Regions from separate parts of the Homo sapiens genome. Here region 2 is linked to region 1. Evidence: fine-mapped expression QTL. Tissue or cell type: fibroblasts. Region 1 holds a variant in brackets; the other region holds the start of a gene. All regions are shown on one strand. Distances are between the middles of the regions.

Region 1 (8,108 bases):
ATGTGAAAGAGAAATTACAAAGGCTTTTGGCATGCTGTTTCTCACCGGTCCCCTTCCAAGCTAGTCTGCATCATGACAAGGAAAACCTTGAGAAAGGGCAGGGGATAGTAGTATGAGTAGCATCAAATTACTCACATAGGTCTCAGGTGACATCGTTTTGCCTCCTTTTATCCCTTCAATTTTATTTATAAAATCAGAATTTTCCATGGTGTGATGGTTAATAATGTGTCAACTTGATTGGATTGAAGGATACAGAGTATTGTTCCTGGGTGTGTCTGTGAGGGTGTTGCCAAAGGAGATTAACATTTCAGTCAGTGGACTGGGAGACGCAGACTCATCCTCAATGTGGGTGGGCACCATCCAATCACCTGCCAGCGTGGGCAGAATAAAGCAGGCAGAAGAAGGTGGAATGAGCAGACCTGCTGAGTTTTCTGGCCTTCATCTTTCTCCCATGCTGGATGCTTCCTGCCCTCAAACATCAGGCCCCAAATTCTTCAGCTTTTGGACTCTTGGACATACATCAGTGGATCGCCAGGGATTCTCCGGCCTTCGGCCACAGGCTGAAGGCTGCGCTGTCGGCTTCCCTACTTTTGAGGTTTTGGGACTCAGACTGGCTTCCTTGCTCTTCAGCTTGCAGATGGCCTGCTGTGGGACTTCACCTGGTGACCGTGTGAGTCAATTCTCCTTAATAAAGTCCGTTTCGTATATTCATCTATCCTATTAGTTCTGTCCCTCTAGAGAACTCTAATACATATGGGATTAGTACAAGAGGTAAGTTATCTTGCCTCTTCCTCAAGCTCTCCCTTGAACCCTTGCAAAAAGAAAATTCCCCACATTGTTTTCCTAAATATTACAACTCTACGTCCAGAGGATGATTGTTTTCCTGAGTACTTGTTAGTACTTCTACTCTTCATTCTTTTTAGTAATTCTGATCAGGACCTTTTATTTTCTATTATAATGGGCCAATGTGATGGTTAGTTTTATGTGACATCTTGACTGAGCTGAGGGATGCCTAGTTAGCTGGTAACACATTATTTGTGTTTGTATCTGTGAGGGTGTTTCTGGAAGAGATTAGGATTTTAATTTATAGGTTGAGTAAAGAAGATCTGCACTCACTTATGTGAATGGACATCATCCAATCCTATGAGAGCCTGAATAGAATAAAAAGGTGGAGGAAGGGTGCATTTGCTTCTCATTTGAGCTGGGACAGCCATATATACTCCCCTGCCCTCAGATACTGGTGCTGGGTTCTAGAGCCTTTGAGCTCTGATCTGGACCTACACTGTTGGCTCCCGTGGTTCTCAGGCCTTTGGACTTGGACTGAGTTATATCACCAGCTTTCTCCCGCTGGTTTTCCAGCTTGCAGAGGGCAGATTATGGGACTTCCAGGCCTCCGTAATTGTGTAAGTCAATTCCTGTAATAAATCTCCTGTTTTATAAATATATCTATATAGATATCTATATAGTGTTTCAGGCCACTATTCTTTACTATATATTAATCACTATTCTAAGTGATTTACATATTTTATGATCACATCTACACTCTGGGGTAGTTGACCAGTCAGGGTTCAGTGTAGGAAAAAGAAATTGTTCTAGGAATTTCCAGTATATAGGAATTTAATATACAGAACTATGTGTTTATAAATTCATTAAAATGGCTGGAAAAGCAGAAACAGGGGGCTGCTTCTGGAGTTTTGGTGTTAAGCTAATGCTCTAATAGCTGTGACCCAGAAGAAACTGTTACTGCAACCACTGCTGTGGCTGCCACAGCTGCCCTGTGCTAAGAAGACACTGCCCCTTGCATCTAGAGAGTGCAGCATTCATCTAACCCATGCAAATCCTGTGTCTGTCAGAACCTGCGTGTCAACTCTCCCTGCTGCAGGAAGCTCATCTCTGCCTCCCTTTCAAATTTCACGTGTGTGTATCTAGCTGGCAGAGTCTATTTCATAGCCAGAACCCTATCTATAAAGGAGTCTGGAAAATGTACTTGTTCGTTTTCCAACTTCTTCAAATAGGAGGGTTGAGAGAGCAACAGCTCATCTTCAGATGGAGGTTGAGAGAGCAACAGCTGCCACAGATTTCAAGCAGAGTTGGAAAGAACTGCAAATTTTTTATTGATTTCATTTGTTCTAAATAGACAAATTAATATCATGTGGAGTTGCTTATCTGGATATTTTCTTGTGATATATTTATAGTTTTAGTGAACGCTTATTTTTAAAGTTTATATTTCAAAATATGTATGAATAGGATATTTTAAAGAACAAAATAGTGGTGATGACTCCCATTAAGAAATACTATTGGCTGTGCACGGTGGCTCATGCCTGTAATCCCAGAACTCTGGGAGGCTGAGGGGGGAGGACAGCTTGAGGCCAGTTCAACTAACCTGGGCAACATAGCACAACAACAATTTAATTTAAATTAAAAAATTTTAAAAAAATTTTAAATTTTAAAAATTTAAAAAATTTTTAAAAATACTATTCCTGCCAGGCATGGTGGGTCACGCCTATAATCCCAGCACTTTGGGAGGCTGAGGAGGGCAGATCGCCTGAGGCCAGGAGTTCAAGACCAGCCTGCCCAACATGGCAAAACCCCATCTCCATTAAAAATACAAAAAAATTAGCCAGGCGTGATGTGGTGGTACACACCTGTGGTCCCAGCTGCTTGGGAAGCTGAGGCCAGGAGAATCACTTGAACCTGGGAGGTAGAGGTTGCAGTGAGCTGAAATCGCACCACTGCACTCTAGCCTGGGCAACAGAGCAAGACTCTGTCTCAAAAAGAATAAAAATAAAATACTATTCCTCTTTCCATATATTGATATCTTAATTATGTTGAACTTTTAGGCTTAAGCTCAAACCTGGCCATTTTCGTGATCAGTTTTGAAATGTTATACACAGAAGCCATTTAAAATGTATATTAATATGCAGCCCTACAATATTTACTCAAGTCCACATTATTCACTCTTACCTGAGCTGTAGTATAGTATTGATGGCTCATCATACTCATCTCTGCCTAGCAAACTTTTATATTCTACTTGCAAAGTTAAAATTGTTTTTGTGGATTAAAAAATGAGGAAAGGAGATAAAATGGGTGTCCCCTGAGGTCTCAGTAAATAATTTCTTACGGCTATAAGACCTATACTGACACTCCCCTAAGCCCTCCTTAGGCCTTAGGCACAGCCTTCTTTGTGAGCCTCATATACAGTATAAGTTCAACAAATGTTGAATGAATACACGAAAGAATGCATTATATGTAAACCTGAATTTTCTATTTAACTTTATCCTGTGCTGTTTATTCCACTTAAGATTATAAACATCTTGAAAATAGGGATAGCTTTTTTTTTTTTCTTTTGGAGACGGAATCTCACTCTGTCACCTAGGCTGGAGTGCAGTGGCACGATCTTGGCTCACTGCAACCTCCACGTCCCTGGTTCAAGCAATTCTCTTGCCTCAGCCTCCTGAGTAGCTGGGATTATAGGCACTGCCACCACACCAAGGTAATGTTTTGTACTTTTAACAGAGACAGGGTTTCACCATGTTGGCCAGGCCAGGATGGTCTTGAACTCCTCAGGTGATCCGCCTGCCTCAGCCTCCCAAAGTGCTGGATTACAGGCGTGAGCCACCACACTCAGCTGGAATAGCATCTTATATGCCTTTATACCCCTCCTTTCCACCTCCTAATATAATCTGAGAACACAGGAAGTGATCAATATTTACTGAACCGAATCAATAGTTTTGAAATAAAGTATTCTTTTATCAATTATGAACTGGTAATGTTTATATTTTAAAACTACTTTATTAAATAAAAAATTTTAAACAGAGAAACATTTAAAGAACAATTCAGCAATATTTCAACCAGCTAAAGAGAACCAACATTTTTTTTTTTTTTGAGACATAGTCTCTCT[C/A]TATTGCCCAGGCTAGAGTGCAGTGGTGTGATCTCAGCTCACTGCAGCCTCTGCCATCTGGTTTCAAGCGATTCTCCTGCCTCAGCCTCCCGAGTAACTGGGATTACTGGCGCCTGCCACCACGCCTGGCTAATTTTTCTATTTTTAGTAGAGACGGGGTTTCACCATCTTGGCCAGGCTGGTCTTGAACTCCTGACCTCGTGATCCACCGGCCTTGGCCTCCCAAAGTGCTGGGATTACGGGTATGAGCCACTGCGCCTGGCCTGTTTTTTTATTTTTTAGAGACAGGGTCTTGCTCTGTCTCCTAGGCTAGAGTGCAGTGGTGCCATCATACCTTACTGTAACCTCGAACTCCTAGGCCCAAGTGATCCTCCTTCCTCAGCCTCCTGAGTAGCTAGTACTTGCAGGCACTGCCATAGCCAACTTTTTTATTTTTTGTAGAAATGGAGTCTTGCTAAGTTGCTCAGTCTGGTCTTGAACTCCTGGCCTCAAGCAATCCTCCTGCCTCGTGCAGGATTACAGGTGTAAGCCACAGCACTCAACCAACATTTTGGTTGTTATTTGTTTTTTGCCCCTATGCCGATGTTCTGGGTTTAAAAATATAATCATTGTGCATACATTTTTGTGTCCTGCTTGTTTTTCACTTATTATAATTTTCTGTGTTGTTATGAGTTTTTATTTTTAAATCTGAATAATGGTGCATGCCTGCCACATAGTGGACATTCAATAAATTAATAAATTAATACTTTATTCATTTATTCATAAACATTAAGAATTACATTTTTAAAATATTTACTATTTTGATAGATGAGAAATGGAAACTTCTTTGATTTTTTAAAAAATTAAGATCACTTTTATTTATCGAAGAGCAAAATAGTAAATTAACAAAACCTTAGCTGATAGAGAAATAACACCGGAAGTCTTGTGCATGTGATTATCAACTAAGTAACTGGTTGAAGTCAGGATATAAATCACTGGATAATTTTTTGTGGAAAGACAGAATAAATTGATGAGGCCCTTAATAAAGAAATGGAAATGAAACCTTGCCCTTTGGAGAAAGAGCACTCTGTAATTCCTATAGCCACCACTCTTCGTCAAAGAGAAACAGGGTTGTGACAATGGTCCCATGAGCCTGGACCTAGGACCCTCTTCAGCTTGTCTCTTGCTTGACTTTGGAGAGCAGACTGGGCATGACACAGAGGCCAGAGACTAATTTGACAATGGGAAGGTTAAAAACTTCATATCCTGGGCCCACTCTTTGATCTTGAGCCATTAGTTCCACAGTTTCTCTTGGCCTTTCATGTCTAAAAAAATGTCCAAGTATTACTGTTACCACCTTGAGAGACGTGGCTGCTGCCATCAGTAGGTGAAAGGTTGTCTTGCTGCCTGAGATGGAAAGTCCCTAGCCAACACCTTATTTTCTGGCTGTATAAGACAGCGACCCAAAAAGCAAAGGGTTGGGAGGAGGACAGGCAGTCCAGCAGGTGACCATTTAGAACTTCGTGCTATAAATGGTTTTGGATTTCCAAAGATGAAACGAGTCTCCCCAGCACAGGGCAGTTGCAGGTCACACCCCCAGGGCCTGACTGGTTTTATCAATCTGGCTGTTTGGGGTCAGTGCAAAGGACATCCTCACCACCTGGATTGCACATATACACAGATGGTGATGATTCTGATATACAGGAAATTGGCGTGAAACTACAGTCTCGCTTTTGCATAGCAACCTTTCACTTTTGGATCTGAGGGGCAAGATGCTTGCTATCCGCTGGACCAATCACTCATGCCATTTACGCCACAGCAGTGCAGAAATGACTGGATGGAGTCCCACATCGCCTTGGTGCTGTTGTCCCAGTGGTAATGGTAGATGCTGTCCGTCAGGCCCTCAGCTACCTATACATTCAGCTTCCGTTCGTAAACAAAGTGCAGGATGGCCAAGATCACCTCAGCAAGGAGGATAACCGGCAGCAGAATGAACAAGGACATAAGCAGGCACCTGTTTTTCTTGACAGAACCTATGCAGCCCAGGAAGGCAACCACCGTGATAATGGAGACCACGATGACAAGCACATTGCCCGGCATGAGGGAGGGGAGCTTATGGAAGAGCACTCCCAAACTGTTGTGGATCAGCGGGTACATCCCCATAACTGCAGCAGCCACAGAACCAAAAGAGCAAGTTGGGCTGTGCGTGGTAGCTCACGCCTGTAATCCCAGGACTTTGGGAGGCTGAGGCGGGAGGATCACTTGAGCCCAGGAGTTCAAGACCAGCCTGGGCAACATAGTGAGACCCTGACTTTACAAAAAAAATTTTAGAAATTAGCCAGGTGTGGTGGTGCATGTGTGTGCCTATGGTCCCAGCTACTCAGGAAGCTGAGGTGGGAGGATTGTTTGAGCTCAGAAGGTGAAGGCTGCAGTCAGCTATGATGGAGCCACTGCACTCCAGCCTGGGAGATAGAGCAAGATCCTGTCTCAAAAAAAAAAAAAAGAAAGAAAGAGAGAAAGTGAGAGAGAGTAAGAAAGAAAGAAAGAAAAGAAAGAAAGACAGGACATACTTCCATAATTTCAAGCTACTTGTGCCCATGCTGGGATATTCTGGTCCTTTTGCAGGCACTAGTCCTCAGCCCTTCAGACAGAATTTGTGATTATCCTTCAGATGGCCAAAACAAGGCTGGTAACATTCATGTCTAGAGTTATTTCAAAACTCCTTTGATGTTTGAAACTAGCATTACTACTTTACTATTGAGGATAATTTTTTAATATGTTTATTGACCAACTGTATTTTCTTTTTTGCGAATTTTTCTTTTCAAATATTTTGTCCATTTATCTATTGGAAACTTGATTTTAATAAACTCATCATTAAAATTTATTAATAGGACTTTTATGATTTTTGTTTTTAAAATAAATGTTGGGCTGGGCACAGTGGCTTATGCCTGTAATCCTAGCACTTTGGGAGGCCAAGGTGGGTGGACTGCTTGAGCTCAGGAGTTCCAGACCAGCCTGGGCAACATGAAACACCATCTCTACAAAAAATACAAAAATTAGCTGGGTGTGGTGGCATGCACCTGTATTCCCAGCTACCTGGAGGCTGACATGCCAGGATTGCTTGAGTCTGGGAGGTCAAGGCTGCAGTGAGTCACGACTGCACCACTGTACTCCAGCCTGGATGACACAGAGAGAATCTGTCTCAAGAAAATAAAATAAAAATAAAAAATAAGTGTTGTCAAACTAAGAAACAATTGGCAAAATGAAAGTAAGTCTTTGTAATCACAGAAAGAAAAGATCAAGCAGAGATAAATGTTAGTTCAAATACTAAATGATGCCATCTAGTGGAAAATTTATTTTGACTCATTTCTTTGGATTGCAGGTTCACAAATTTCAATGCCCCCAAATTTGGAATTGACAGGCTCTGTTAAAATACATAGTCCAGCCCCTCTTCTGCCTAGAGATTTCTAACTTCATGTGTGTGATAATCCAAGAATTGTGTTTCAATAGTATCCATATTGGAAATTAGAAAAATTCCATTTCAGTTAAAAAGAGTGTCCCAGAAGTACCTTGTGCTTTCCCTTTCCATCAGAATGTTTACTAGTTTCACCATAATAAATAATTTTATTGCTAAACATTCTTTAAATGTGTTAGCCCCTGTGCTGTTTTACTTGAATTGTTTTATTTAGTCTGTTCAAACACTGTAAGTTACATACTATTATTATTGTATTTCACAAGTGAGAAGGTTGAGGGTGAGAACTTAAGTAGCTTCTCCAAGATCACACAGCTATATTGTATCTGAGCCCAGAAACCATCAGGTTATTGTGCACAGGCCTATGTGACACGAAAGGTCAGTCATGTGAATAGTGAAAAGGGACTAACTTTTAAAAGACCAGTTCCAGTCCCATGATCCTATCCTATCATCTACATTTAGCTTAGTATACTACAGGCAGAAATGAATTGTATTTCTTCATTACTAAGGGCTATTTAGGGACATATTGCTTTGATATGTTGCAACTTAATACACACATGGTGATAGTCATACATTCATATGTTCCTTAAATATTGGTTGTTGATTTCTGGTGTTATAAATTTGAGGATGTTTTCAATACTTTGCTGTTACTCTCTATTCTTCCCCTAAATAAAGTAAACTGAACTGCCTCAAACCCTCTATGTGGAGGCAAACTGAAACTAATTTATTTATAACTGGTTAGAAAACCCAGTTGAT
Region 2 (8,108 bases), 150 kb after region 1:
TCCTCCCTTCTTCCCTCACTACACTGTAGTCCTTCAGGTTAGGAACTGTGTTTGTCATAGTCTTTTTTTTTTTTTTTTTTTTTTTTTTTTTTGAGACTGAGTCTCCCTCTGTTGCCCAGGCTGGAGTGCAGTGGCGCTGTCCCAGCACCACTGCAACCTCTGCCTCCCAGGTTCAAGCGATTCTCCCGCTTCAGCCTCCTGAGTAGTTGGGATTGCGGGTGCCTGACACCATGCCCGGCTAATTTTCTTGTGTCTTTTTTGTAGAGAGGGGCTTTCGCCATGTTGACCAGGCTGGTCTCAAATTCCTGACCTCAAGTGATCTGCCCACCTTAGCCTTCCAAAGTGTTGGGATTACAGACATGAACCACTGCAGCTGGCCTGTCATAGTCGTCTTTGTATCCTGGCATCTTGCACAGTGCCTGGCACATGGTACTATATATATTGAATAAATGAAGGAGTGGGTTGAAACACTTACTTAGGTGTGAAACTTATTTCCTTGAATTCTCCAATCCCCAGCTGCCCTTCAGAACCAGCTCCCCATGCGAAGACCCTTCCTTTGTGGCACACAGCCAGGGAGTGCTCCTTCCCGCAGCTCACGAGATCAACAATTAGGGTTTCCAATGCCTGAATTGGTTCTTTGGGAAACAAAACAAAACACCCCCCAACCACCACTGCAGATTATTAATTTAACACAAGTTTAAGACAGCACTTTTCTTCAAAAAGAAGGATCATCCAGATTTCTTGTCTCCTCCAATGGTCTTTTGAATCAAGACCTTAAGTCCATTCTAAATGTCTGAAGGAAGTAAATTCAATGTATGTTACCCTGTCTTTATAGGATACAGCTCTGTTAAAATAATCAACAGGGAGACTATCAGGTTGAGATGGCTCCAGCACCTTGGGTTCCTACCTAAGCAAACCAAAACCCAACTCAGAGTGATTGATCATAGCCTAGGAAAATGAAACTTAAGGTTAACCAATCAGAAACCACCAACTAACATCTAACTAGAGACTTTACCAACCAGAAACTGCTGACTACTTCAAACAAGGGACTTTCCACTTTAACCAATCAAGTATTTTCTTTGTCTTGCTTCCTGGAACACGTTATCAAAGGTTCCCCCTGGCATCTCCTTGCACCTCCCTTAGTGGAGCCCAACTGCTTGAGGTCTGGTGCTGCTCAATTCATGAACTGCTGAATGTTCAAATTGACTCTTAAAAACATTCAATTACCCAAGTCTATCTTTTAATGGCTGTTATTTAAAGGAGTAGGCATCACGGAGGGGGTAACTTCTAGGGACTATGACACATGACCAAATGTTTCTCTAGCAAAACCTAGCAAAATAAAGAGACCCAGAAAAAAGTTGGGATCTCCTCCATTTTGCTATTCTGTCTTCCCACCCTAAACACTGAAAGCAGTGAATCCCTTGCTCAGAAGGAAATTGGAAGGGAGCCTACCTCATGAGTGTGAGAGGCAGATGCTGGATCCTCTTACAATGAAAAGTGAAAAATATGCCCCTATGGAGGCCCTAAATATGCCCACAAATGAAAACCGGATCACATTTCCCTACAAGCCAACCTAAACTGCTTTCCCAAGGTGTCTGTCTCTGAATTATTAGAGGTTTGGAGTTGAGAACATCATACCAGTAAAGTTTTTGCAACATTTAAGATTTTGTTTTTCCTTTTATCTTTGTAATCTTATCTTTTTCAACTATTTACTGTCAATTTATGCAAGGTTAAAATTTCCCAAAGATTCATGCACTCACAAAGATAGAAATTGGTACCATTTTTCTAGAGAACAATTTGGGGTTAAGTATCATGTTGCCCTTCATTTCCAAATGAGGGTGATAAGACCTGAAAACATGCTACTTTAAGAATTTGAGCTGAAGGCAATTGAGAATCAACAGATGCAGGAAGAGGTCTCTGCTCTCTTCTTATCTACCTAAAAGTAGGTCATAAATATCCTTTTGTGAGAAGCTCCCATCTCTGGCACCAAGAAAAGGGTCAGCCGGGCGCAGTGGCTCATAACTGTAATCCCAGCACTTTGGGAGGCCGAGGCGGGTGGATCACGAGGTCAGGAGTTTGAGACCAGCCTGACCAACATAGTGAAACCCCGTCTCTACTAAAAATATAAAAATTAGCTGGGCATGGTGGTGAGTGCCTGTAATCCCTGCTACTTGGGAGGCTGAGGCAGAAGAACCGTTTGAACTGGGGAGGCGGAGGTTGCAGTGAGCCGAGATAGTGCCATTGCACTACAGCCTGGTGACAGGGCAAAACCCCATCTCAAAAAAAAAAAAAAAAAAAAAAGAAGAGAAGGGTCACCTAAGATGAAGACTTGGCACTGAGGTGAGCCTGCATAAACAAGTCAATTAAAATAACCCTTATCTTCCATTAGATTTTCCCATATATTTTCTAGTCACTTTCCCTGAGTTCATCATCCTTTAAAGTCCAAACCCCCTTTTCTTTGTTAAACATGGTACACAAGCTCCTAAGTCGAAGCACTTGAGTTTCACTTCTATTCTGTAAATTCCCACGCATGTAAATTCCCCTATATGTAAAAGATTAATAAAATTGTATGCTTTTTCTCCTGTCAATCTGTCTTTTGTCAGTTAAGTTTGCAGGACCCAGCCGCTGAACCTAAGAGGGTAGAGGAAAAATTTTCCTCCTCCACACACCTTTTGAAACTATTCTCAGCAGGTCATCAAAAATGTAGTCAAATATTTGCTTACGAGAATATCAATCAGTATTATTTATAAAAGCCCCTAGTGGGAAACAATCTAATTTCCACAAAAAGAGAATAATTATGGTACTCTCAGAGTTTAGAATGTTATGCAGCAATTTAAAACATATTTTCAAAACATACAAAATGAAAGGGTAATATGTTCATAAGATTATGCTTGATGAAAACACAATGTACAGAGTTGCATAAATACTGCATATACAAATCTATAATGACATGATTTTTATAAAGATTAAATATGTACATAGAAAAAAGTAGACAAGGAGAAAATGCATCAAAATGTTAGGAGTTATCTTTGGGTGTTGGAGCTACGGTGATTGCTTTCTCGTATTTCTACAATAATCCATAACGATTATTGTATTATCTCACATATATAATATATATATTTATTATTATTATGTTTTTTGAGACAGAGTCTTGCTCTGTTGCCAGGCTGGAGTGCAGTGTCGCGATTTCGGCTCACTGCAACCTCTGCCTCCCGGGTTCAAGCGATTCCCCTGCCTCAGCCTCCCAAGTAGCTGGGACTACAGGCGCCCGCCACCACGCCCAGTTTATTTTTTGTATTTTAGTAGAGATGGGGTTTCATCATATTGGCCAGGGTGGTCTCGATTTCCTGACCTCGTGCTCCGCCCGCCTCGGCCTCCCAAAGTGCTGGGATCACAGGCGTAAGCCACCGCGTCCGGCCTATTATGTGTATATATATATATTTATATATTATATATATATATTTATATATTATATATATATATTTATATATTATATATATATTTATATTATATATATATTTATATATTATATATATATTTATATATTATATATATATTTATATATTATATATTTATATATTATATATATTTATATATTATATATTTATATATTATATATATTTATATATTATATATTTATATATTATATATATATTTATATTATATATATATTTATATATTATATATATATTTATATATTATATATATTTATATATTATATATATTTATATATTATATATATTTATATATTATATATATATTTATATATTATATATATTTATATATTATATATATTTATATATTATATATATATTTATATATTATATATATTTATATATTATATATATTTATATATTATATATATATTTATATATTATATATATTTATATATTATATATATTTATATATTATATATATATTTATATATTATATATATTTATATATTATATATATTTATATATTATATATATATTTATATATTATATATATTTATATGCTATATATATATTTATATATTATATATATTTATATGTTATATATATATTTATATATTATATATATTTATATGTTATATATATATTTATATATTATATATATTTATATGTTATATATTTATATATTTATATATTATATATATTTATATATTATATATTTATATATTATATATTTGTATATATTTATATATTATATATATTTATATATTTTATATATATATTTTTATATATATATATTTTTTAATGCCCCAGTGTATTTCTAAGGGAGATACAGGTGTCTGACCCACAAACCACGTTTGTAAGGTCAGGCTGCCTTCTCCAGGTAGAACCGCGCAGGCGAGGATTTATCTGCAAGGCAAGCCGGAGGGACCACATCTCTTTCCAGAGCAGCGCTGACCAGGTTAGTTTCGGCTCTCAGTTTCGCTTTGAACTTGAATTGGAAACCGAAACAAATCCGAGGGGCGTTGGGAAAACGAAACTGAGGAAGTTGCTCTTCGGTAGCACAGGGCACCATTTTCCTGGTTCCTGTGGCTCTTCGGGCCCCGAGGAATCCAAGGCTCCCAGCACCCCTCCCTGCCTGGCCCGCGGCGCCCAGCATCTGAGCCGCTCCCTGCACCTGGGCCCCCGCGCCCCTCACCCGGGTCCCAGCGCTCCGCACCCGGTTCCCTGCGCCCGGTACCCAAGCCCCCGCGCCCATGTACTGGGGTCCTCACACCCTGCACCTGGGGCCCCCCGCTCACCTGGCAGCTCCCCGCGCTGCGCGCCCCTGCGGCCCAGCTGACCCCTGCTGTTGTCTCCGCACGAGAGGACCCTGTGGTTGGTCAGCAGCAGCAGAGAGTGGCGCTCCCCGCTGGCCGCCTGCAGTAGCTCAGCCCCGGGGCTGCCCGCCGTCCTCCGGCGCTGCAGCTCCCTGGAGTCGGCGCCCCAACAGAAGTACATCCCGCTTCTGCGCCCTGTCGCCTGCTCCGGATTCCGTCGGTCCCGCTGCGACAGGCTCCCGAACGCTGGTGACTGGGTGCGCGATGATTTCCTGAATATCAAGAGACTCACCCTGTCTTCAACCCGCCCCAGGGGCGCAGCCCTGGCCCCATGTCAACTCTCGCTGCCTGAACTTCAAGTGCTGAAGAGCAGAGAGGGCGTCCCAGGGAATAAAACTGAGTTTACATCCTAAGCCATTTATGAGTCGTGAATGCCACTTTGGGCAAGTTACCTAATGATTCCGTGCTTCAGCTATCATATCTACGAAATATGGACTGCAATTCAGCAAATCTAATATGTCGGGATAATTTAATAGGCACATAAAGTGTTAGAATAATACCTAGAGTGGTTAATAAAGCATCTGAGTGCCCACCTCATTCCAGACCTTTTTTGGCATTGAAAATATGTTTGTTTTTTGTTTGTTTGTTTGTTTGTTTGTTTGAGATGGAGTGTCGCTCTGCTGCTCAGGCTGGAGTGCAGTGGCACCATCTCGGCTCACTGCAACCTCCACCTCACGGGTTCAAGCTGATTCTCTTGCCTCGGCCTCCCGAGTAGGTGGGATTACAGGCATGCGCCACGACGCCCGACTTAATTTTTGTATTTTTAGTAAAGATGGGGTTTCACCATGTTGGCCAGGCTGGTCTCGAACTCCTGACCTCAAGTGATCCACCCCTCAGCTTTCCAAAGTGCAGGGATTACAGGCGTGAGCCTCTGGGCCCCGCCTGAAAATACAATTAGTGAAAGACAAGATCCTCTTGATGCGTTTACATTCTCCTGAGGGAAAGAGAACATAAACAGATAAACACATAGTGTAATATCAAGGGGCAACGAAAAATACAACAGGAACCAGAGGGTGGAGGCGGAAGGCACTGGTATTTGAGATGATATTAGGGAAGATCTCTCTGATGAAGTGATATTTGTGCAGAGAGCTGAGGGGACATGGGAAATGAGGGAATGAGTCGTGATCACACCTGAGGGCAGAGGATGAAAAGAAGCAGTTGGAAGGTTTTGAATAGAGAAGAGCCATGATCTGACTTCAGTTTTTAAAGATTCATCTGGCTGCTGTGTGAAAAATAATAGGACAAAAATGGAAGCAGAAAGCCAGTTAGCAGAGACTACTTCAGAGTTCAGGTCAGGTGATATCCTAGAAGGGAAGAGAGGAGAAGTTATTAGATTCAAGACATGTTTTGAAAGTAAGAGTCCACAGATTTGATGATGGATTAGAAATTGGGGGGAAAGAAGAAAAGGGATTAGGGATTACTCCAGGGTTGGCTTTAGGGGTTACTCCAAGGTAAACTCTACTGGACTGGGAAACCCTGAGGAAGGTGCAGGTTTAAGCTATGTGTGTCTGGAATACAGATTGGTAATGATAACTGTAAGATGCTTGTTAATCAAGAAGGCAATAGGATAAACTGTTTTGGAGTTGTAGAGAGAAGCTTGGGTGTAGTCAGAAAATTGGGAGCCATCAGTGTAGAGGTGATGCTTAAAGCCAGATGGCTGAATGAGAACACCCAGGGGGTGAATGTGGTGACAGTATAGCAGAGGCTAGAGGACTGATCATAGGAGGAAAACCAGGAGGAGGAGTTATAGACAGAGCAAGTAACGAATAAAGGAAGGATCAACTCTGTCAATTTCTTGTGGAGCAAGGTAAGGATTGAGCACTGATTTTTATTTATTTATTTGTTTGTTTGTTTGAGATAGAGTTTCCGCTCTTGATGCCCAGGCTGGAGTGCAATGGCGTGATCTCAACTCACAGCAACCTCCGCCTCCCAGGTTCAAGCAATCCTCCCGCCTTAGCCTCCCAAGTAGCGGGACTACAGGCACGTGCCACTACGCCCAGCTAACTTTTGTATTTTTTGAAGAGATGGGGTTTCATCATGTTGCCCAGGCTGGTCTTGAACTCCTGACCTCAGATGATCTGCCTACCTCAGCCTTCCAAAGTGCTGTGATTATAGGCCACCATGTCCCGCTGAGCACTGGTTTTTAGATTTGGTAACTTTGATAATGTTAGCCATCATCAGCATTATTGATTTTTTTTTAAAAGAAACTATTACAGAACCTATTTATGTAATTTCAATTCACCACTCTTCATGACCATGTTTCAAGTTCTTTAAAGAGAAGAACAAATGTTCTTTATTTTTCTACCTCAAGAGTACCTGGAACTTGGTAGATGCTAATAAGGGTATGTCGGACAATTGGATTGATGAGTAGTGAGTCAGTGGATAGTATTAGTATTTCTGGTTCTGTTTTGCTGTATACCAAATATAACCTTTTTCTGAATAGTAATTTCTTAATGTTTATTTCTTTTCTCAAGCACAAAATGTAGGAGTTTGGTATTATTACCATAAGATACTGAGCCCTCAAATTAAGTTATTTCTTTAAAAAAAAATTTTTTTTTGAGACAGAGTCTCGCTTTGCCACCCAGGCTGGAGTGTAGTGGCACGATCTCAGCTCACTGCAACCTCCACCTCCCCGATTCAAGCGATTCTCCTGCCTCAGCCTCCTGAACAGCTCAGATTACAGGCGGGCACTATCACACCTGGCTAATTTTTGTATTTTTCGTAGAGATAGGGTTTCACCATGTTGGCCAGGCTGATCTCGAACTTCTAACCTCAAGTGATCCGCCTGCCTCAGCCTCCCAAAGTGCTGGGATTACAGGCGTGAGCCACCACTCTTGGCCTAAAAAATCTTTTATTGATACATAATAGATGCACATGTTTTGGGGGTACATATGATAATTTGACACATTATCAAATTGGGATATCTATCGCCTTAAATAATTTATCTTGGGCTAGGCACAGTGGCTCATGCCTATAATCCTAGCACTTTAGGAGGCCGAGATGGGAGGATCGCTTGAGCTCAGGAGTTGGAGACCAGCCTGGGCAACATGGTGAAACCCCATCTTTACAAAAAATAGCTGGGTGCAGTGGCACATACCTGTAGTCCCAGCTACGTGGGAGGCTGAGGTGGGAGGATTGCTTGAGCCCGGAGCCTGGGAGGTGGAAGGTGCAGTGAGCCCAGATCGTGCCACTGCACTCCAGCCTGGGCGACAGAGCCAGACCCTATCTCAAAAAAAAAAAAAAAAAAAAAAGGAACATTCAAATTATTATTGGCTAGTGGTTTTGAAATGTACCT

The links. PIP is the estimated chance that this variant, and not a neighbour inherited with it, causes the effect.
Region 2: HERC6 starts here. The variant in region 1 is fine-mapped to the expression of HERC6 in fibroblasts (GTEx, PIP above 0.99).

The regions. Positions count from the first base shown.
Region 1 is chr4:88,525,531-88,533,638 of GRCh38, reverse strand. It overlaps a transcript of HERC3 not described here and the pseudogene LOC100129137. Among named protein-coding and RNA genes, the nearest start is that of PIGY-DT, 5.8 kb to the right of the region's middle. The variant C/A (reference allele first, on the strand shown) is at 3,902.
Region 2 is chr4:88,375,748-88,383,855 of GRCh38, reverse strand. It overlaps HERC6 (HECT and RLD domain containing E3 ubiquitin protein ligase family member 6), which reads right to left and starts at 5,004. Exons shown (of 23, transcript NM_017912.4): 1 at 4,736-5,004; 2 at 476-635. The coding sequence starts at 4,934. RefSeq lists enhancers at 876-1,175, 4,252-4,581 and a silencer at 4,592-4,781.